Linked DNA regions of Homo sapiens: regions 1 and 2 are each linked to region 3. Evidence: fine-mapped expression QTL. A gene starts in region 3. Each other region holds a variant in brackets. All regions are shown on one strand. Distances are between the middles of the regions.

Region 1 (8,185 bases), 450 kb after region 3:
TTGACAGTAGGCATTAAAGGGTTTTATTGTGGTACTTACTTATATTATAAAAATTTAATTGCCTAAATGTACTATACTAAATGATCATATTAATCTTGATGTGCCTAAAAATTAATCTACTTGATAAACTGTTCTCTCACATTATATGTTCATAAACCAGAGATGTAGTTTTAAAATAATGTTTACTGAGGATGTTTAATATATCAGAGCATAAACAGCTGTCAGTTTTTCTTTTACTTTTGAGGGTGATAAAAATAATGGATTTTCAAGTAAGATGTATTAAGATGTCAAATGCATCTATTCTACTAATTATAACTGTTGATTCTAAACAATAAATACCTGTTGTACATCTGTGAAAAGACATACCCTCTTTTTTATTTTTTGAGAAAGAGTCTCTGTCACCCAGGCTGGAGTGCAGTGGCACGATCTCGGCTCACTGCAACCTCCACCTCCCAAGTTCAAGCGATTCTCCTGCCCTGGCCTCCTGCCTCCTGAGTAGCTGGGACTACAGGCACACGCTAACACACCCAGCTAATTTTTGTATTTTTAGTAGAGATGGGGTTTCACCATGTTGGCCAGGCTGGTTTTGAACTCTTGACCTCAGGTGATCCACATGCCTTGGCCTCCCAAAGTGCTGGGATTACAGGTGTGAGCCACCGTGCCTGGCCACATATCCTCTTTTAAAGGAGTTCCCTATATACTAGGGAGGATAAGACACATGCATATGTTATGATAAGATAGAAAATGACAAGTACCTTAAGAGTAATACAAAGCGAAGTTTGAGATTGAAGAATGGAGGACACATTTAATAAGGATACTCACCGAGACTTCTGATTGGCTTAATCTTGACCAGTGTAGAGGAGAGAAGAGAATTCTAGGAGAAACAGAAGCAATCATCAGTGTTATAATCCCAGCCTCTCTAAGAGTGGGTTCCAAGATAATGTTCAGAGGATAATAACAGAGCACTTTGTGCTTAGACCTTACTGTACATGTAGAGGAAGCAAAATCTTTACAAGTAGGTCTTTGGCCATATCATGAATATCCTTAAATGCTAGACTGAGGATTTAGACTTCATTTGTTTGGGAGTTAACAGAAATAGATCACTTGTGCATTGCTAATTTAAGAAAAAGATATTGTATGCTTTTGACATATTTAGGGAGGTGTTGTGGACCCACCACCTGGAGAGAGATATATGGCCAGCAGTTTGAAATGAAATTCATTTCATAGCAGAATTTGAGGACAGAGGAAAAGATTTAGGAATCACTTGCATGACTGGTGAGGGTGAAAATGGTGATTATGGATGAGATGACTGAGGGAGGGAGAATAGGCAAAGGAGAGAAAGTGTATCAGGCAGAAACTTAGAACACACCAACATTTTTAAGATTAAATGAGCAAGAAGAGAGCAGAGAGATGTAGTCAAAGAAAGAGGCAGTAGGTATGATTCAGAGCTGTAGTCTCAAGATAGGACTGGGGGCATATGACGATGCCCAGTGCTGTGGAAGTTAATGAAGCAGAGGATACAGTAAAGGTCACTCACTCCCAGCACTGGTTGGAAGTCGCTGGGGACATTTGGGGAAGTAGTTTCAGTAGAGTCAAGAGGAAGAAGTCAAACAAATGGATAAGGAGTAAGTGAAGGGCAGTTTCACCTCTAACACTCACCTTTTCTCTCACCCATTCATCAAACCAAGCCTTTCTTTTTTAAAGGCTAGTCAAGTGAAGCAGTGGGAGTAAAGAAGGAATAAACTAAGTTTTTTGAAAGATTACATACTATTTTCAACACACATTCATTCCTGAACTCATATCATTGTGGCAGTCACTGCATTACTCTCTTCATATGGTTCTCACAAAGGGCCACTACTGACTTCTTAATAGGGTGACCTTATGTCTTTGTTTCCAACATATTCAGTGTTCCTGGGGTATTTGTTAATAGAGCCCTCTTTCACCCTCAAAACTGTCCTAGTTTGGATGATAAATTATGAGTTATCCCAGCTCTTCATCACCAGTTCTAATGAGCCGTTTTCAATCTTTATCTTACTTGACCTTATTTGATTTTTTTTTTCTTTACACAGCTGACTACTCCCCTTTAGTGTGACTTGAAACCCCACTTCTTTGATTTGTACTGGATAACTCTTCTGGTTCTCCTGACACCTTCTCAGTCTTTTCTGCGGCCTTCTCTTCTGTACACCCTGTAAGTGGTGCCATTGCTTAGAGTTCTGTTCTTGGTTTCTTCTCTTCGTTACACGCCTTTTCCATAGACAGGCTCACTCATAACAACAGGTGCAGTTAACTAGAAGCCGGTGAAGGAAAAATATAACCCTTGTTTCTCCCCAGTGAGCTTTGGATTTGCACATCCACCTGCCTAGTACACTTTTACTATAAGTGATAGTCAACATGTGGATAAGAACTTGAGCATTGGAGTGAGACATAAGGCTGCCAGGTCTGCCGTTTAATAGCTTAATGGCCTTAAAGAAGAAAGTCTTTATGTGGCTCAGCTTCCACTCTGTAAAATCATGAAACCTGTCACGTAAGATTTATGTGCGGGTAAAATGAAATAGCACATGTAATGTGCTGAGCACAGTTAATGGCACACAACATACACTTAATGAATAATAGAAATTATTATTATTTCCCAAACTGTATTCTCCTCTCATTATTTCTTGTCTTGTGGAACATCTGCCTTCCTGAGTGGAGGAGGGTTTATGTGTGGGGGAACATGAAATACTTTTGGAAAGATTGAGTGATGCCACAATATATGAGGCCCTGGAAGCTGGACAGAGGAATTTAGACACAATGGTGGGTTACAGGGGCTTCTGCAGTCTTGTGAGCATAGAATGATTCTGTGGAAAGTGGTGTTGTAATAAAATTAGTTATTTTAATATTAAGCCAGATGTGTTTAAAGTAGGGGTCGGGAGGCTGGGCAAAAGGCTGATAGAGTAATACTGGCATAATTTGATGAGGACCTGGAAAGGTGTGGTGACAATGGAATGAAGAGGAAAGGATAATTAGGGAAAGGTGATAAATGGACAGATTATTTTATTTTTTATATCAGTTCTTTCTTCAGAAGGTTGTGAGATATTTCCATCAAAAATATATATTTAATAAAAATGTAATAAAGCTTCTTTATGGATCAAGAAGCCACTACTGTTTTGTACCTATTTATTTGTGAAAGAGAAGGAAAATGTGCTAATAATAATAGTGGCCAACATTTTCAGCCTGATTCTCTCAGAGTTTGCTTAGATGATCATTTACCTCTTCAGATCTTTGAAAGAATTTCATAAATGACTGGTCCCATTTGTAACCTTTATTATTCTCATAGTTACACAGAATTGTTGAGATGCATACTTCAGTATTAAAGGATGTTGGTGTTTCTAGTGATTCTGGCCGGTTACATGACACCATGTGATACAGTTTGGATATCTGTCCCTGACCAAATCTCATGCTGAAATGTAATGCCCAGTGTTGGAGACGGAGCCTGTTGGGAGGTGTTTGGATCACAGGGGCAGATTCTTCTTGAATGACTTGACACTATCTCCTGGTGAGTTCTCGCGAGATCTGATTAAGTGTATGGTACCTCCCCCACCTTACTCCCTTTCTCTCCATGTGACGTGCATGCTCCTGCTTCTACCATGAGTGAGAGCTCCCTGAGCCCTCCCCAGAAGCCGTGTAGACGCAAGCACCATGCTTGTACAGCCTGCAGAACCGTGAGCCAATTAAACTTCTTTTCTTTATAAATTACTCAGTCTCCGGTATTTCTTTATAGTAATTCAAGAATGGCCTAATGCACCATGTAAATTAAAATATACACTTGCAAATATGTCACAAAAAGACTTACTCTCCCCCGAAGAGGAGTCAATACAAAAACCTGAAGAATGTGGCAAGTGGAAAAACAGAAATGAGAAAACTACCTTTGTTTATAAAAAATATTTTTAAGATATTTTTTCTTTGGAAATAGATTGTTCTTTTGAAATCTGGAATGTAAAATGCCAGACTCTTCTTCTGTTTTTCTGGATTTGAAACAATCGAACACTGGGAAATATCTGATCCTGAACTAAAATGCAGGCACACCAAATTTGAACTCAGATTGAAAAAGTTAACACTGGGAATCAACTAGAAATTAACGGTGATTATGAAGAATATTTTGATTGCTATTTGATTCTTTCATAGCTCTGTAAAACTTATGTAAGCAAGCTATTAAAAAACAAAAGCTGAAGGCGACTGTTTTATGATGTGTGTATCATAAAGGAAACCATCACCACCTGTCATTGAAACCAGGAAAGGCTCATGTCAACTAAATGTGAAAAGAAAACAGTGTAAGAAATTAAAAAAAAAATCATATTCTTGAGGCCATGAAACACATGTTCCAGAAAACAGTTTATTAGAATTGCATTAAGTAAAAATTAATGTCTGCACACTGATGGGGAAGCAGTGTGGAGTGGTATGGAAAATGTTAGAGCAGTCTATTTTTGTAAAATCTGGAAGTTGGAATAAATAATCATTGGGGCCCCAGCTCTAAAATCCTACTACCACTATTAATGTGACAATGATTTAATTTTTGAATGAAATTTAAATTGTAACATATGCCATGGGGAATGTGTTTTCTGGCTTGCTAACAACATGAAAAGAGGATGTTGAAAGCCTCTTGTAATTCATGTTTTTAATTTCATTCTTTTTTTTTTTTTTTTTACAGAGTTTGGTTTTTATTGTTATGTGTTTGTCTGGGTGCAGAATTGCCCTCACCACCCCTGGCCACCCTGGCCTCCTGACAGGAACAGGCAAAGAGATGGCTCCAGATGGCTCTTGGCTGCCAC[T/C]CTAGGCCTCAGGGCTTATACAATGAGCACAGTGGGTTCCACCTTCCAATAGCGCAAACTCTAATTCACAGTCAGATTTCACCAGGAGGGGGAGATGATCTTGGCTGAAGGCACTTTAATCAGGGAGCAAACCCAATGCCGGAGTTTGTCTTCCTTCTCGTTACTCTGATAAATCTAGATGCCACTCTGTTGGAGAACCAGCACTGCCGGCAGCTGGGGTTAGTGCACTGACTGAGTGAGGCATGAGGCCTGCTCACTGATGAAACTTCTTGTTAGGGCTGTTAGTGTGGTCAGCTAGCAGCTGGCTTGGGGTGAACTCTTTTCCATAGGCAGCCTCATACTTCTTGAGCCGGTCCACTATCTTCTGGGCTTCATACAGATCCACAAAGCAGAAAGGCCCTCCAAGACAAGGTGGGAAGCTGAGCCCGAAGACGGCTCCAATGTCTCCCTCTGCAGGTGTGGCCAAGATCCCCTCTTGCGGGCACGTGACTGCCTCATTCACAAATCTTGTCAGCAGGCGGAACTGGATGTCTTCATCTGAGGAGACTTCAGACTTAGGAGGCATCTTCAGACTTGCTAAAATACCGTTCATGTCAGAATTCAAATTCTTATTCTTCACACTCTCCTGATAGATGGAAAAGCCCTTCCCAGACTGGCGACCTAGGAAGCCCTTGGACACCATCTATGTCAGTAGTTCTGGGTTTCCACCTCCAAACTGCTCCCCAAAGGCTTTGCCCAGATCTTTGGCCACATGTTTCGCTACATCCACGCCAACTTCATCCACCAGTGTGGCGGCACCCACAGGAAGGCCAAGGCTTGTGGTCAGGGAATCCAGCTTCTTTGGGTCAACTCCTTCCTGGAGGATTCAGATGACTTCAGACATCATGGGTGCAAGACACCTGGTAGTATAGAAGCCAGGTCCATCCTTAACCACAATGATGACCTTCCCCTGCTTGAGACCGATTGCTACAGTTGAAGCACTGGTGTCTTTGGAAGTCTTCTTGGTTGTGATCATCTCCAGCAGCTGCATCTTGTCTGCGGGAGAGAAGTAGTGCCTGCCAATCACCTTCTCAGGTCTTTTGCTGACAGCAGCGATTTCACTGACTGGGAGAGGAGATGTGTTACTAGCAAAGACGTAGTGATCTGGAATCACTGCTTCTACTTCCTTTAGCACTCTGTGCTTAAAACTAAGGAAGTTGTGATGGATGGACAGCATCCATCACCATGTCTGTCTTTCAAAACCTTGGTAATCAAGCTTCCCAGTCAAGTTGCTGAAGATGGAATCCCTTTCAAATGACGTTAGAGCTTTCTTCTTTACTTTGTCATTCAATCCTTTGAACACTTGTTGCTGTCCTCAGCCTAACCCAGTGAGTGTGGCATCTTTAAGTATAGTCTTTCGCCCCTTATCCACGGAGACTTGGGCAATGCCTGCTCCCATCATCCCTGCACCAGGAATAGCCAGATGCTTAACATCCTTCTGTGGAGCTCCAGATGTATTCTTCTTGCACAGGACCTGACCATGGTAGAGTCCCATCAAGGCCTTTGATTCTTTGGTCATTGCAAGCTCTCCGAATTTCTGAGATTCAGAGAGATAACCAGCATCGCTCCCTTGCTCAATTCCAGTCTTTACCACATCAATTATTTTCAGAGGTGTGGGATAAAGGGAAAGCCCTTTAGTCCGCTTTCACACTTTTTCTTCCACTTTTTTGTAAATCTGTTGCCTGACAAATGGAATAGTCATGGCATACGCTGTTAATTTTTCCACTAATCCCTTGTCTCTCTTTGGAGAGATCTTCTTATCAGCTAGTCCTTTGGGAAAGTAATTGCAACTTCTTCTAGGTATTTGATTGTCCATTCCTCTGGAAGTTTTAGTCCTGGTCGCAGAGATTCCACCAATTGGTCAACCAGTCCCATTTTCTTTGCCCTGTCTGCACGGATGTTTCTGCCAGTCAGCATCATGTCAAAAGCAGCAGGCACACCCACCATTTTGGGCAGCCTTTGTGTGCCTCCTGCTCCTGGTAAGATCCCCAGCAAGACTTCAGGAGCACCGAATACTGTTTTTCTGTCTTTTGTTGCTATTTTATATTGGCATAAAATGGCAGGATCCACTGATGGCAGTCACAACAGGCTTTATGGACTTTTCAAGTTTCTCAAATGTTCTCTGTGCTTCTTGTGGTATCTGTGTTACTTCTTGAGGGGTCTTGCAAGTGGCTAAAATGTTGATATCAGCACCTACAATAAAGCAGCCTGGCTTTGGTGAGATAAGGATGGCACTTCTGATTTGATCACTAGCCCAGATTTCATTCATAACTTCCGTGAACTCTGAATGCAGCTGTTTGTTTATTCAGCGTATTTATCTTTGAATGGGGAGAGTTAATTTAAATAACTATCACATCCCCTTTGACTCCATAGTTAATATGGGTTCTGGTCAGCAAAGCAAAGGACCCTGTAAAATTGCGGCGTATATAACCTTGGGAGCGGAGGATCCTGAAGGCAGAGAAGTGGCTGAGGCTGCCAATCGCCCGGTAGACCACCATGTTGAGCTGAAGAGAACAGCAGTGGAGAGCGCTTCTCTTTAATTTCATTCTTATCTTTTGTATTAGCTTTTTAAATGTATTATAACCAAGGAGAATACAAATGAACTGACTTCACAGTTTTTCCCTCAGATTTCAGAATTGTACTGTTCTTAAGCTCCCTCCTAAAACTTGTCTCTTTTATTAAATATTTTAATATTTAATGGCTGAAAATCTTTGTGGTCATTATTACTTTGTTGCAGCTTTATTGAGATAGAATTCACATACCAAATAGTTCACACAATTAAAAGTAAAATTCAATGGTTTATAGTAGATCCACAGTGTTGTGCAGCCATCACCACAATTTTAGAACATTTATATCATCACCTCAAAAAGAACCCCATACCCATTAGCAGTTATTCCTCATTTTCCCAATTCCTCCCAATCCTGCTCCAACAACTCTAGGCCACCAGACTAATCGACTTTTTGTCTCTGTAGATTTGCTTATTCTAGACATTTCATATAAATCAAATTGTGTGATATGTGGTCTTTTGTGGCCGACTCCTTTAACTTAGCATAATGTTTTCAAGGTTCACCCATGTTGTAGCATGTATTAGTACTCCATTATGTGGATTTACCATATTTTGTTTTTCCATTCATCAGTTGATAGACATCTGGGTTGTTTCAATTTTTTGTCTATCATGAACAAGGCTGCTGCTATGGCACTTATGTGCAAGTTTTTTTTGTGGATATGTGTGTTTATTTCTTTTAGGTATGAACCTAGCAGTGGAATTGCTGGGTCATATTGCAGTTCTTTGTTTAACATTTTCAGGAACTGCCAGACTGTTTTCCAAAATGACTACA
Region 2 (8,185 bases), 21 kb after region 3:
TTTAGCTGAATCCACATACTTCTATTATAGCATATTATAGTTGATGTATTATATGTAATACATACATATATAGAGATAACCTATATTTACTTACATATAAAACACATTGGGCCAGGCGTGGTGGCTCACACCTGTAATCCCAGCACTTTGGGAGGCCAAGGCAGTGGATCACTTGAGGTCAGCAGTTCGAGAACCAGCCTGGCCAACATGGTAAAACCTTGTCTCTCCTGAAAATACAAAAATTAGCTGGCAGTGGTGGCGCATGCCAGTAATTCCAGCTACTTGGAAGGCTGCAGCGGGAGAATTGCTTGAACCCTGGAGGCAGAGGTTGCAGTGAGTAGAGATCGTGCCACTGCACTCCAGCCTGAGCAACAGAGCAAGGCTCTGTCTCAAAAAAGCAGCACATTGACATTTCACCTAAAAGCTGTTATGGCTTATAAGGTTGCTAGTCCTGAAATGATTAGTAAAGGCAGTAACTTCCAAGGGCTCACTGTAGTAGTGGTGTGCTTCAGAGAATTTTCCTATACTAATTTTGGAGTAAGACAGAAGTTTTAGAATTTTAAAATACATCCTTTATTTTAAATAGCCCTCCATATTGGCAAGTTCAGCATCCACTAACACAATTAACTTCAGATAGAATCGAAAATACAGTATTCCTGGGATGCAGAACCTGCATCCACTGGTCTTGAGCATTCATGGATTTTGGTATCTTCGGGTGCCCTGGAACCAATGCCCTGTGTATATTGTATATCCAGGGATGAGAGTACATTTAACTTGTGAAAAATTCTAACACAACACTACAGAAAACATAGAATAATGGCCGGGAGTCGTGGCTTCAGGGCTGTAATCCCAGAACTTTGGGAGGCCAAGCTGGGTGGATCGCTTGAGCCCAAGAGTTCAAGACCAGCCTGAGCAACATGGCAAAATCCCATCTCTACAAAAGGAAAAGAAAGAAAAGAAATAAAAAGAATACTGTCTCTTACAAACCACTCTTCCCACCTGCCCACACTAAGCGTGGCTATGGTGACTCCCAATACTTGCTTAATACTTTCAAATGGGTACTGTTGAGCAGAACAAGAAAGTTAGAAAGTGCATGGGAATGGGAGTGAGGTTGCATAGGGTGCTCAGAGATTGGAAAAATTGAGCCTGAAAAAGTTTTAAGAATCTTGCCCAGCCACGCACGGTGGCTCACACTTGTAATCCCAGCACTTTGGGAGGCCAAGGCAGGCAGATTACCTTAGGTCAAGTGTTCGAGACCAGCCTGGACAACATGGTGAAACCCTGTCTCTACTAAAAATGCAAAAATTAGCCGGGCATGGTGGCGCGCCTGTAGTCCCAGCTACTTGGGAAGCTAAGGCAGGAGAATGGCTCAAACCAGGGGGCAGAGGTTGCAGTGAGCTGAGATGGCGCCATTGCACTCCAGCCTGGGTGAAAAGAGGAAAACTCCATCTTAAAAAAAAAAAAAAGAATCTTGCCCAATGTCACATAGTTAGTAAACTGCAGAGCATCATTGCAAAAAATGGTAAAATCAGAAGAAAAAATGTACTTTTAAGAAAACATATACAAAAAAGGACTCTAGCACAGTGCAAAGTGCAGGGAAAAGAAAGAGATCAGACTGTCACTGTGTGTCTATGCAGAAAGGGAAGACGTAAGAGACTCTATTTTGAAAAAGACCTGTACTTTAAACAATTGCTTTGCTGAGATGTTGTTAATTTGTAGCTTTGCCCCAGCCACTTTGACTCAACCTGGAGCTCACAAAAACATGTGTTGTATAAAATCAAGGTTTAAGGGATCTAGGGCTGTGCAGGACGTGCCTTGTTAACAAAATGTTTACAAGCAGTATGCTTGGTAAAAGTCATCGCCATTCTCTAGTCTCAATAAACCAGGGGCACAATGCACTGCGGAAAGCCACAGGGACCTCTGCCCTTGAAAGCGGGGTATTGTCCAAGGTTTCTCCCCATGTGATAGTCTGAAATATGGCCTCGTGGGATGAGAAAGACCTGACTGTCCCCAGCCTGACACCCGTAAAGGGTCTGTGCTGAGGTGAATTAGTAAAAGAGGAAAGCCTCTTGCAGTTGAGATGGAGGAAGGCCACGGTCTGCTGCCTGCCCCTGGGAACTGAATGTCTTGGTATAAAACCTGATTGTACCTTTGTTCAATTCTGAAATAGGAGAAAAACCGCCCTATGGTGGGAGGCGAGACATGTTTGCAGTAATGCTGACTTGTTATTCTTTACTCCGCTGAGATGTTTGGGTGGAGAGAAACATAAATCTGGCTTACGTGCACGTCCAGTCATAGTACTTTCCCTTGAACTTAATTATGACATAGATTCTATTGCTCACATGTTTGTTGCTGACCTTCTCCTTATTATAACCCTGCTCTCCTACTACATTCCTTTTTGCTGAAATAATGAAAATAATAATCAATAAAAACTGAGGGAACTCAGAGGCCGGTGCCGGTGCAGGTCCTTGGTATGCTGAGCGCCGGTCCCCTGGGCCCACTGTTGTTTCTCTATACTTTGTCTCTGTCTTATTTCTTTTCTCAGTCTCTCGTCCCACCCGACTAGAAATACCCACAGGTGTGGAGGGGCAGGCCACCCCTTCATAAAGGACACAAGAGGACTCACTCCAGGTATCATTGTGCCCTCCTTTCCCCAAGCATACACCCAAAGCAGTCTTCTCTACTATTTAAAATCAGGACATTAAGTGAACAGAACAGCTCTGTAGGCACAGTCACCACCCTAGTTTAAACCACTTATGTCTCTCTCCTAGATACACAATGGTGCCTCCAATTTCTGAAGTCTGTAGCTAAACTGACCTTTTCAAATACAAACAGAATCCTTTCATATTTCAACTGAAAACATTCCACTGGTCCTTTATTACTTTATGGAAGCAATTCTCAAATCTTACCTTGCATTATAATCACCTGGAGGTCTTGGTAAAAGATTGCCTGGGCCACATCCCCAGTTTCTGACTCAGTAGGGCTGGTTTTTTCCTAAGTTCCCAGATGATGCTGCTGGCCTGCGGACTGTACTTTGTGAACCTATGCTTTAAGGAAAACAAAGCAAAAAGATCCATTAAGATCTAGTCCAAGTTTTTTGCCTAGCTCCCATCATGTCACATATCACAGTTATGTGATTTTACAGCTACTCTGCAATTCTTTACCTAACTGTAAAAACCCCTCACCAGGCAGCAAGCTTCTTGGTGGCAATACGTCTCTAGCTTGTTTGAGGAATAAATAAAACCTGTGGTAGATTCCAAGCTCTCAGTTTCAACCATCATCATACTGGCTGATTCTTAACATGCCTGCACCTAAAGCGCCTCATCTACAAAGTTGAAATGATAATTCGTACCTGTAAGACCCTTGTGAGGATTACAGGATGCTTACATAGGTCGAGGGTGCAGACGACGTAGGCTGGTGGGTTCTCAACTGGCAGCTACCACTTCGCTCCCTTAACTCCCCAACCCCCACTCCCAAACACGTACATTAACTCTTTGAAGATAACATAGCCACTTCATAAACCCTAATTCAGATCATAACATTTAAAGCTTAATTGATACAGGCTCAACACCCCCATTCTAACTCTACAATCCTGAATTTTTCACAAGAGCTACGCCAGACACTAAGGAGATCCAGTCGTGGGCAGGCAGCGACCCGGAGGTTTAGGCACAGAGAATGTTCAAGAAGCCCCTGTCCAGTTAAGCCTCCTGGCGAGGCCCTTCTGGGCCTTTCCTGCGGCCTTCCCAGCTCA[C/T]CTGGAGCAGACGGATCAGCAAATCCGGCCAAAGAATACTCAGGACCCACCGAGCCCCCGCGAGGAAGGACTCATACCCCAACCCCACCAAGTGGGCTGCTTCCTGCCTGGGGCTCAGCCTGCGCGGTGGTTGGCAGTTGCCCCGGAAGTGGGCGGGAAGGACCTGCGCATGCTCTGTGACCCTGGGTGCAGGGATTGTGTGAAGATTGAGAGCTGGGGGCGCCCTCTTCCGTGATCAGGGCCCCGTTGGCCCCAACTGGCATTTAATTCCCCTGGCTGTCTTTTCGGATTCTTATCACTTTTTATGTATATGAGTAAACTTGAGGGTCCAAGTAAGTCTGCAAGTTGGTTTTAAAAGCTTCACCAGCACAGCGTCCCCTCCCAGATGGTGAGGGAGTGGAGAGCTTTGCAGGGTCAACTGCTTCCCGTAGCCTGGGGTCGCAGGGTGGAGTCGTTGAGCACTCCCTATGCTTGAAAGAGGAATAGAAGCCCCTTTGGATTAGTTTGCATCTCAGTGGGTGAGTGGGTGGATCTCTCCCACCCTGTGGGATTGTGCCCTACCCTATGAACTCAGGTTTACCTGAGGAAGTGACATTTCAGGCGGAATTTGAGGGATGAAGAGGCATTCGTTGGATCAATTCCACGGTCAAAGTCTTCAAGGCTGGAAGAAGAGCCAATGTGGAGCCTCTCAACTTTAAAGAATTTAGTACAGGCCGGGCATAGTGGCTCACACCTGTAATCCAAGCACTTTCAGAGGCAGAGGTGGGAGGATCGCTTGAGGCCAGGAGTTCAGGACAAGCCTAGGTAACATTGCCAGACCCTGCGTCTACAAAATATTTTAGAAATGATTTTTTTTTCTTTTAATAAGAGACGGAATCTCTCTTTCGCCCAGGCTGGAGTGCAGTGGCGCGATCTTGGCTCTCTGCAACCTCTGCCTCCCAGTTTCAAGCAATTCTCCTGCCTCTGTCTCCCGAGTAGCTGGGTCTATAGGCGCACGCCGCCACGCCTGGCTAATTTTTTGTTGTTGTATTTTTAGTAGAGACGGGGTTTCATCGTGTTGCCCAGGCTGGATTCGAACTCCTGAGATCAGGCAATCCGCCCGCCTCGGCCTCCCAAAAGTGCCAGGATTACAGGCGTGAGCCACCTCACCCAGCCAGAAATGATAATTTTATTTTTATTTTTATTTTTTTTTTGAGACGGAGTCTCGCTCTGTGGCCCAGGCTGGAGTGCAGTTGCGTGATCTCGGCTCACTGCAAGCTCCGCCTCCCGGGTTCACGCCATTCTCCTGCCTCAGCCTCCAGAGTAGCTGGGACTACAGGTGCCTGCCACCACGCCCAGCTAATTTTTTGTATTTTTAGTGGAGACGGGGTTTCACCGTGTTAGCCAGGATGGTGTCGATTTCCTGACCTCGTGATCCGCCCGCCTCGGCCTCCCAAAGTGCTAGGAGTACAGGCGTGAGCCACCGCGCCCTGCCTAGAGATGATAATTTTTAAAAACTTGGTACAAAAGGAACTGAAAGAGGTCATTTGGTTGGCACTACAACGTGGGAAATTGCAAGAAGTATAAAATATGGAAAATGGCTTTGTGAGGCTGATGAGATAGGCGAGAATGAATGCTGCAAGGCCCTTTAGGCAAAATTGAGGATATTGGTTTTTATCAAATGCAAAGAAAAGCCAGTGAAGCATTTTAAACATGAAGTACTAAGATTTGAATTGTGGAATAAAGACCCGTCGATGCCTTTAATATATCCTAGAAAGGGTGTATGGTGGACAGTTGAATAGAGGTGTGACCTAGACAAATCAACCGATAAAGCAAAGTCCTTGTTCGTAAACCTTTTGAAATTCCAGAGTCTCCTGAAAAAGAAAGGAAAAGAAATACCAGTGGCAGCAGCTTCCCCCATATTACTTTGCAGTGAGGTGAGTGCATGGTATTTATTTGTTATTTTCGCCCAGGCTGGAGTACAATGGCGCCATTTTGGCTCACTGCAAGCTCCGCCTCGCGGGTTCAGCCTCCCTGGTTCAAACAGTTCTCCTGCCTCAGCCTACAGAGTAGCTGGGATTACAGGCGCGTGCCACCCACGCCCGGCTAAGTTTTTGTGCTTTCAGTACAGACGGGGGTTTCACTGTGTTGGCCCGGCTGATCTCAAACTCCTGGGCTTAAGCGATCCACCCGCCTCGGGCTCCCAAAATGCTGGGATTACTTAAAGGTGTGAGCCACTGCACCCACCCTGTATATTATGCTATTTAAACAAACTATGCAGCCAGCAGGGTGGTTTCTTTCCCTGTCACAGTACGTGGCATTAAAAATCACGCTTGTAATCCCAGCACTTTGGGAGGCCGAGGTGGGCGGATAACAAGGTCAGGAGTTCGAGACCAGCCTGACCAACATGGTGAAACCCCATCTCTACTAAAAATACAAAAATTAGCCGGCGTGGTGGCGCCTGCCTGTAATCCCAGCTACTCAGGGGAGGAACTGCTTGAACCCGTGAGGCAGAAGTTGTAGTGGGCCGAGATCGCGCCACTGCACTCCCGTCTGGGCGACAGAGGGAGACTTTGTCACCAAAAAAAAAATTATTTAAGATACCCAAAGGACTATAAATCATTCTACTATAAAGACACATGCACACGTATGTTTATTGCAGCACTATTTACAATAACAAAGATTTGGAACCAATCCAAATGCCCATCAGTGATAGAATGGATAAAGAAAATGTGAACATAGCCGGGCGTGGTGGCTGACGCCTGTAATCCCAGCACTTTGGGAGGCTGAGGCAGGTGGATCACCTGAGGTCAGGAGTTCGAGACCAGCCTGGCCAACATGGTGAAACCCTGTCTCTACTAAAAATACAAAAATTAGCCGGGCATGGTGGCAAGCACCTGTAATCCCAGCTACACGGGAGGCTGTGGCAGGAGAGTCGCTTGAACCCGGGAGCTGGAGGTTGTAGTGAGCCGAGATGGCGCCATTGCACTCAAGCCTGGAGGACAAGAGCGAGACTTCAACTCAAAAAGAAAAAAAAAAATGAAAATGTGGAACACATACACCATGGAATATTCTGCAGCCATAAAAAAATGAGGGAAATAGTTGAGGGACATAGTACTTTGCAGGGACATAGTTGAAGCTGAAAGCCATCATTCTCAGCAAATTAACACAGAAACAGAAAATCAAACACCTCATGTTCTTACTCAAAAGTGGCAGTTGAACAATGAGAACACATGGACACAGGGAGCAACAAAACATGAGGGCCTGTTGGGGGGTGGGAGGGCAAGGGGACGAGAGTATTAGGACAAATACCTAATGCATGCGGGGCTTAAAACCTAGATAACAGGTTGATAGGTGCAGCAGACCACCATGGCACATGTATACCTATGTAACAAACCTGCACATTCTGCACATGTATCCCGGAACTTAAAGTAAAATTTTAAAAAAGAAAAATAACTTAAGAGACCAGGCATGGTGGCTCAACGACTATAGTCCCAAAACTTTGAGAGGCCGAGGCAGGTGATTACTTGAGGTCTGAAGTTCGAGACCAGCCTGGCCAACATGGTGAAACTCTGTCTCTACTAAAAATACAAAAATTAGCTAGGCCTGGTGATGGGCGCCTGTAATACCAGCTATTCAGGAGGCTGAAGCAAGAGAATTGCTTAAACCTGGGAGGCAGAGGTTGCAGTGAACCAAGATGGCGCCACTGCACTCCAGCCTGGGCGACAGAGCGAGACTCTGTCCCAAAAATAAATGAGTAAGTGAATAAATAAATAAATAAACAAATAAATACTTAATATGGGAACCCCATCAATATGGCACTGAATCCTGCAAGGCTGACTATACCTCATAGGATACAGCATAATTTAACTGGATGGGGCCCACCTGCTAGATGCTAATTAACCTAAAGAGATGTGATGTAATTACTCTTCTAGACCAGTTGCCCTAAGAATTTTGTTCTTCCCTACAACAAGAGTTCAGGGCTGGGTGCGGTGGCTCATGCCTGTAATCCCAGCACTTTGGGTGGCCGAGGTGGGTGGATCATCTGAGGTCAGGAGTTTGAGACCAGCCCGGCCAACATGGTGAAACCCCATGTCTACTAAAAATATAAAAACTGGCCAGACATGGTGGTGGGCTCCTGTAATCCCAGCTACTCAGGAGGGTGAGGCAGGAGAATTGCTTGAACCCAGGAGACAGAGGTTGCAGTGAGCTGACACTGTGCCACTGCACTCCAGCCTTGGCGACAGAGTGAAACTCCGTCGTCTCAAAAAAAAAAAAAAAAAAAGAAGAGTTCAGAAGCAATCGGGCTTTCATCTTTACTCCTCCACTGAGACTGTTCCAAGTTTATCAGTGATCTAGTTTTTCAGCTAAAGAATATTTTTCATGCCTGTTACATTCTAAGATGCTTTGTAGCTTTGCTCTATGTCTATTCCATCTGGATTTAGCAGACTACTC
Region 3 (8,185 bases):
CACCATAAAGGCTTACTCAAACAAGTTCAAATTCAATGAAATGAAACATGGTGCATCTAATCAACAGTTAAACATCAGGGTGTGGGGGAATCCTACAAAATAGTTCAAATCCATTTTTACAGTTTTTCACCCTTGATAACTTTTAATCGTCACTCCTCCATTTTTTTCTTTGGCCGCACATTTGGGCAACCTGCCAAGAAAGCCCAGGTGCTCCCTCCTTCAGGGCAGGAAAGAGATTCAAACCAGGCAACTTTCATTGTGAATGAGTGATCCCTCACCCTGCCCACACCTTAACCTGAAGAAAAACACCAAGCCCGTCTTCTTTCTCTGCTCTCACAGTCCATTTACAGACCACCTACAGGCCTGTGCTGCTCTCCTTCAACACCCCAGCATGTGAGAAACAAACCTGTTCCTATCCTTCTAGTGTGTGTGTGGGTGTGTGGCATAATCAGTCTTTATATCTGGACTAAATTTGATGGGTGTTCAATTTTTCCCATGTGGGGTTGACACAACAATAATTAGGATGCTGTATGATCTCAGTTTAATTATTGGGATATTATGGAAAAGTCCCAACATGCAGAAAGAGAGACATAATTGTACAATAGATCACCCCAACCCCCATAGATCCATTACACAATTTCAATAATTATTATGGTCAATTTTATTTTATCAAGATCATGCTCTACCTTCCCCAAATCATTTTAATGCAGTATTCATACATCATATCATTTTATCTATATCTTAAAATAAATCACTAAAAGAACGATTTTAAAAGTGTAAGTGCAGTATAGGTATCACATTTAATATTTAAATATAGTTTCATTCCCTCTCTGGGTGGTCCACCCTCCCCGCACCTCAAGGTGTTCACAAATCTCAAAGCTCCTCATATTACTTTCTTCAAGAATTTGTATAAAGTTTATTTTCCAGGTCCCCCCACCATCCTACTGAAAGTTCTAATCACTTGGTCTTCTGTGAGTAGCCCTATCCTGAGGCTACCCTGGGGCCCCAACCCAACCCACCTCATTAGCATAAATCCAGTTGATCCAAAGGGGCTCATTATGAATAACAAAAGACTGGCTGGGAGCCATGGCTGTAATGCCAGCACTTTGGGAGGTCAAGAAAGGAGGATAAGGCCAGGAGTTCCAAACTAGCCTGGCCTACATAGTGAGACACCGTTTCTTCAAAAAGAATAATTTTTAAAAATTAGCTGGGCATGGTGATGTGTGCCTGCAGTCCTAGCTATTTGGAAGGTTGAGGCTGGAGGATTGCTTGAGCCCAGGAGTTCCAGGTTACAGTGAACCATGACTGCATCACTGCACAACAGGGTGACAGAGCAACATCCTGTGTCCAAAAAAAAGTGAAACAAAAAAACCCAGCACTTGCCCTTATGCTCCACTCAGTGCATGATGTGTTACTTCCGCAGCTCCCACCCCATCACAACCATTCTGCAGGTCCCTACCCCTGTCCCCTTCACCAACCCAGGACCCTGCAGGAGCAATCAGAGAACAAGAGAGAACTGCCCTCTGGGACCTGTCACTTCCCCCATGCTGACTGCATAAGGAAAAAAAAACTCCCTACAGGGTTTAAGACTGAATTCGTTCTGAGGTCACCATTTTGGTGAACAAGAAGTAGGGACTGTGTTGCGTCTTCTGACCTGGATCGACGAAGAAACAGCTCTGCAAGGATGGAAAAAGCTGACAATCCCCAGTGAACTGCTGACAAGTGAATACAGGTAGGCTCCGCACCCTACACTAACCCTCTACTGGGAGCAGAATATCTGAGTGAGGATTGCACCAGGAGGCACAGGTGAGCTACACTCAGTAAAGGGCGTGCAGCCTTTGGCTGGACCTAAGCTGGGGAAAGTAGCCACATAGGAAGGAACCTTGGGGAGTTTGTGCATTTTATTTTTTAACCATCAGTTTTGTATTATTAGAAAGATAAACATTCCAATATACATCTAAAATTATATATATTGATTATAATTCAATATGTTCTTGTATTAATTAGCATATTTATATGTACATATTATACAGAAATACATATAATTACATACCTTACAAATGTAATTAAAATTTTATTATGGTATAGGAACATATACATACCCTACACATGGTTGGCAGCATGGCTATAATCCCAGCACTTTGGGAGGTCAAGGCAGGAAGATCGCTTGAGGTCAGGAGTTCCAGACCAGCCTGGGCAACCATCTCTACAAAAAATAAAATATAAATATGCTGTTTTATATTTACTTAAAATTTTATTGGCCCAGCACAGTGGCTCATGCCTGTAATCCCAGCACTTTGGGAGGCCAAGGCAGGCAGATCACAAGGTCAAGAGATCGAGACCATCTGGCCAACATGATGAAACCCTGTCTCTACTAGAAATACAGAAGTTAGCTGGGCATGGTGGAGGGCACCTGTAGTCCCAGCTACTCAGGAGCCAGAGGCAGAAGAATCGCTTGATCCCGGGAGGCGGAGGTTGAAGTGAGCCGAGATCGTGCAACTGCACTCCAGCCTGGTGACAGAAGGAGACTCCATCTCAAAAAAAAAAAAAAAAAAAATTATTATGGTATTATAGTAGTATACACATGTCCTACACATAACCTATTTGGTTCACTCTTTACTCTGACATCGTATATGAGACAGTTCTTTTGTATGTTGTATGACAATCACAGATTTGGACTTCTCATAAGGGGCCTCATGCTGGTTTGCCCTAATTACATCTAATTATGTCTGAACTGTTCTGCATAATCAGCATATCTACCATTAAACAGTCAACAGAAGAATCAGAAACACAAACCATTCTTGGAATATATTGAGTTCTGTGCCACACCAAATCCTATGTTTTAAAAAATTTTTTCCAGGCTGAGCTCAATGGCTCAAGACTGCAACCCGAGTAGTGTGGGAGGCCCAGGCAGGAAGATTGCTTGAGGTCAAGAGTTTGAGGCTACAGTGAGCTACGAACTTGCCACTGCAGTCCAGCCTGGGTGACTAAGAGAGATTCAGTCTCAAAAAAAAAAAAAAAAAAAAAACAAGTTTTCCAGAAGATATGTCTTTATTGGTGTTTATATTTACAGAAAACTTAAAGGGAAATTGAGGTTGATTTTCCTTGTCTTCATGTGACCACAAAAGGATGAAGAGAGGATATCAGGGACCAGCCCCAGATGACTCAGGTAATCTGAGACCAGGCCTGGGATCCACACACAAGACACACACACCCAGATGGAAGCACAATGCCTAGTCTCGCTCTTTCCTCAATCCCGATTTAAACTAATTTGGCAGTTTTATGAGATTAAAGAGGGTGTAGACAGGAAATTGGTAGAGGATGGAAAATCGATTAAGATTAGGGACAACTGTGAGGAGGAAGACAAAGGAGACAGAATCTGAGAGCCCTGAGGCGGACTGAAAACGGGGAGGCGGCTCAAAGAAAAGAGTAAGAGAAATGAGCTTTTCTGGAACGAGGCATTGATAACGCTGAAACATGATTAGCCTTTTGAAATAAATCTTTCGTTTATTTATTTTTTTGAGACAAGCTCTCGTTCTGTCGTCCAGACTGAGGTGCAGTGGCGCCATCCTGGCTCACTGCAACCTCAACTCCCCAGGTTCAAGCGATTCTCCCACCTCAGCCTCCGGAGTAGCTGGGACCACAGGGGCGGGCCAACATGTCCGGCTAATTTTTGTATTTTTTGTACAGACAGGGTTTCACCATGTTGGCCTGGCTGGTCTCAAACTCCAGAGCTCATGTGATCCGCCCACCTCAGCCTACCAAAGTGCTGGGATTACAGGCATGAGCTTCCATGCCGGGTATAAAAGGAAGCTTTTAAATTGTGGAGTATTTCATACATCCATAATAGTAGAGAGAACATTATGAAGAACGTACACATAAAAAGAAACCAATTTCTATCATTTGAATTAACAATCTTTATAACCCCAGCAACTTCTCCTGCCAATGGAGTAAATTCCCAGACATCTTATAATTTCATCTGTATATTTCATCTTATAATTTCATTATTTATTCCCTAAAAGACAATATCTCAATTATCATAGTGTTACTGTAACTTTTAATAAGCTGTTCAGTGGGAATTATAACCATATTTTTCTCCAACCAGTTATAAATAAGATTCAATAAATTAAAACAGCAACTGGAATTCTCTTCTGTTAAGGCGGGGCAGGGAGAGCCCTCAGTCTGGCACAGGTAGGGTTGGGTGGCAGAAGAGCAAAGCAAACAGCTGAGGTTCCTTCAGAATGCAACTTTCTCACAGAACACAAGGCTCTCAAGGGGCTTCAGCACCCCAAGCACTGCAGCGTTTCTCCCAGGAGGCTGGGCGAGTCCGTAGCGGAAGTCGGAGCGGCAGAGCAGTGATTGGGTGCGGCCGGCACCGTCTCTGGGCTTCGACTTCCGGGTGAGACCGTGAAGGTGTGGCGCGACGTTGGAGACCGGGGCAGCGCCATGTACCACAGTGGATGGAAGGATGCGCGGTGCGGCGGGGCAGCTGTCCTCTTCTCCCCGGACCCAGCGCCTGGAGAGCCAGCCCTGCAGGGTGGGCTGGGCGAGCCAAACTGCGTTCCTGGTGCAGGGCTTCGGGTCTCCCTAACAGACCTTATACGCTGACCGGCGGCCGCCATGGCAGTGTCTCTTTGCTCAGACATCCAGGGACGACCACATTCGTCCAACAGCGGTCGCTCCACCAATCCTGGGAGAAGCGAATCGTTTTCTCCGCGTGCCCTGTCAGCCGCTCATGGTGCCCAGAGAGGAATTTTAGTGGCAGCATTCCGGCTGTCACGCCACCGAAATTGCCAGGCCACTCCAAGTCAGAAGGACCACCAGGAAAAGTCAGGAAGAGAACCACCATCAGGTCCCAGCCTCTTTTTGTGACAAGGACTAGAGGGTTTGGGTCTGCAGTGGGCTGGCTCCCGCTGGGCTCACCTGTCCTATAGAGCAGGCTGCCTCAAGGAAGAAGCTCACAGGGGACATCTGACATCTGAAACAGCAAGTGTAAAATGCTTTAAATAAGCCAAAACTAAACCAATCGTTATGTTAACTAAAAATACATGAATGCTACCGAAGATAGTCGAATATTAGAGGAAGAGATTAAACTCTGATTTTGAGCACTTTGTGCTTTATTCGGAAAATGAATAAGATGCAGTTCTGAAAACCTGAAAATATAAAGAATAGGATATGATACGCACACTAGATGAAAACAAAACTTTCAGACCATATTTTCTTATTTAAAGCTCTAATAAGTGAGATAGCAGAGTAAACTATTCACTCAAATAATTAGTAACTGATATAAGGGTATGTATCAATAACAGGTATTAAGACAAAAACTTTATGAGCTTTTCCATTTTAACAAGGGATGATGATTCTAGACTTCTGCCACAACATTATGGTCGACAAAACATTCTTAATTCATTTTACATAGATCTGACTCTAGATTCTGAAACAGCAAGTCATAATCTTGTATCTCTAAAGATAGAATACAGTGCGATTTGGAAAGACACCACAAAAACTCATGATCCAAAAAAGATTAAGGCTGTTATTACCAGGAGGAAGAGAAAGAGGACAAAATCAAACTGGATAGATATAATAGAGTTGTTTGTTAGAATTGTCTTCCCAGGAGATGGAAAAAGACGCCATCACAATAGGATTCATGCTTTAGTTTTCAGCTATAGAAATGTAATAACTTTGCCAAAGTAATTACACTACATAGAGTGGCAATCGTTCTATTAAAAGTAAGACCCAGTAATGTTAGGATTTGTTCTGGACAATGAAGGGGATGAGGTTTAATCTTATGACTTGAATGCCAGGTCTGAAATCTTTTCTTCAAGTGATATTTTTATGAAACTACTTAGGCTGTGTTTCACACTGGGTATGATTTCTAACCTCTTATAACCTGTACAGTAATAGATTATGAAGGATGAATTATTTGAAAGCTATTTTGTATTATTTAGGAGAGGAGCTCTTCAATTCTGAATTGTCTGCCACTTACAAGCAGAAGAAAGTTTTTTTCTTTCATTATTTTAGCAACTATCAATAAAACAGTATTAGAAATGCCTACTCTTCAGAGATGTAATGGGAATAAATTGTAAAGTACTTTTGATATTCTAAGATGAAAGATGGTATTACACAGTCAATAATTCAATGCTTCCCACATTATGAATTTTATCAAAATTATGTAGAGAGCTATTAGTTCATTCCAGCAACAAAACAGGCTTATATAAAAACAAAAACCTCCTGGGTCATGCCATCCTACACCAAATTCCTGTTAAACAGAGGCATGATTTATTCCAGTGACCTTGCTATTTCTTCATAACTGTAATATGTCTAATGTTAGACATTTTAAATTAACATTCTATTAGATAAACTGAGAATTTAGGTCTCTCGCACCACCCAGGCACATACTCTATCTTTCCCCACAAATATCCAAATATGGTAATATAATTGGATTAATACGTTCATATGACTATATAATTGTTCACAGCTGAGCCACTTAGGTGCTATAATTATAATTTCTTTGATACACAAATTTTGTTTTATTGTGATTAAAATTGCCTGATTTCTTACTTGCTGCATTTTCTGTTTATCTCTTTCAGCCCCATATCTGCTCATCTCTAAAGTTCCTTTCTAAACTCGACATGTAATTTGTTGATTATATTCATTTTCTTTATAGTGCTCAATCTCCTGAAGCCCTCTGTCATCTTAGCATGAACTGAAATTTGGTGATATGATGCACAGCTGTCCTCTGAGGCCTTTCATGTTTCCCTTACCCTAAGAATTATCTTTTATCTTCTGTCTTATGTCCAGAGGTTTTAAGTCTATTGTTGTCTGAGTCCCTTGTTTTCCTTCTTAGTTTTCTTCCCTTCTTTTGGTGAGCGTATCACCAGGTAGTTCCCTGAAAAAGGGGACTTGGAAGATGTGCCAGTCATTTTCCTTGTGCTGTGAGATGTGGGAATGTGTGCTAGGCCCAGCATTACATCTGGAGGAGGGTGAAGAACATTTGTGAAGGCCACACATGCCTGAGACCAAAGTTCAGAGTGCTTGCCCATGACTCATGCTCAATCAGAACATCAGAGAACACAGGCTTCCCCAACTCCCAAAACCACACTAAGAGGAGTTGAGTAAAAATAACAGTAGAATCCAGTTTGAGAAATTAAAGAGACATATCACTAGGGGAGTGTGAAGTCTTTAATGTATTAATGGTAACGATAGCAATAACAAACTTCAAACTCTGCCTAACTCCTGGCTCGATTAATACAAACACACCCTCACTACGGGCCTAGCAGAAGGGAAACAAGTTCATCTCTGCTATTGGTTGAATTGTGTTCTCCCGAAAAAGTATGTTGAAGGGCTAACTCCAGTACTTCAGATGTGACCTTATTTGGAAATTAGGTCTTTAGAAGGTAATTGGTCAAAATGAGGTCATTAGGGTGGGCCTTAATCCAGTATCACTGCAGTCCTTATAAAAAGATGAAATTTTGACACAAAGATATGCACAGAGGAAGATTATATGAGGAAACACGGGGGAATGCCATTGGAGTGATGCATCTACTAGCCAAGGAATGCCAAAGATTGGCAGCAACACAACAGAACCTGGAGGCATGGAAGAAATTCTATATCACAGCCCTCAGAACAAACCAATCCTGCCAACACTCATAATTTGGACCCAGCCTCCAGAACTGTGAGACAATAAATTTCCTGTTATGGGCTGGACACGATGGTTCATGCTTGTAATCCCATCACTTTTCGAGGCCGAGGCGGGTGGATCACGAGGTCAGGAGTTCAAGACCAGCCTTGCCAAGATGATGAAACTCCATCTCTATTAAAAATACAAAAAAAAGAAAAAAAAATAGGTAGGCATGGTGGCAGGCTCCTGTAATCCCAGCTACTTGGGAAGCTGAGGCAGGAGATTTGCTTGAACCCAAGGAGTGGAGGTTGCAGTGAGCCGAGATGGCACCACTGCACTCCAATCCGGGCGACAGAGTAAGACTCTGTCTCAAAAAAAAAAAAAGGAAAAAAAATTTCCTGTTATGTAAACTACCCAGTTTGTGATACCATATTAGGGTATTCCCTATAAAACTAATATAATCTACAAGTATAAAAATATTTACCAGCTGGGTGTGGTGGGTCATGCCCATAATCCCATCACTTTGGGAGGCTGAGGCAGGCAGATCACCTGAGGTCAGGAATT

Which allele goes with the higher level. Positions count from the first base shown, and alleles are read on the strand shown. Sizes are in standard deviations (SD) of each study's normalised expression. Not every link is listed here.
In carriers of allele C in region 1, the expression in breast of the gene that starts at base 4,386 in region 3 tends to be lower than with T alone (large effect, 0.93 SD a copy in GTEx).

Evidence for each region.
Region 1: its variant is fine-mapped to the expression of FAM218A in breast (GTEx, PIP 0.96).
Region 2: its variant is fine-mapped to the expression of FAM218A in whole blood (INTERVAL, PIP 0.99).

What each region holds. Positions count from the first base shown.
Region 1 is chr4:165,399,004-165,407,188 of GRCh38, forward strand. All of the region lies in intron 1 of CPE (carboxypeptidase E), which reads left to right. It also overlaps the pseudogene HADHAP1. Among named protein-coding and RNA genes, the nearest start is that of MIR578, 17 kb to the left of the region's middle. The variant T/C (reference allele first, on the strand shown) is at 4,809.
Region 2 is chr4:164,973,779-164,981,963 of GRCh38, forward strand. It overlaps TRIM61 (tripartite motif containing 61), which reads right to left and starts at 3,879. Exons shown (of 3, transcript NM_001414904.1): 1 at 3,753-3,879; 2 at 2,910-3,047. RefSeq lists enhancers at 3,988-4,067, 4,098-4,157. The variant C/T (reference allele first, on the strand shown) is at 3,752.
Region 3 is chr4:164,952,563-164,960,747 of GRCh38, forward strand. FAM218A (family with sequence similarity 218 member A) reads left to right here and starts at 4,386. Exons shown (of 1, transcript NR_160935.1): 1 at 4,386-6,569. It also overlaps a transcript of TRIM61 not described here. RefSeq lists enhancers at 4,136-4,185, 4,486-4,645.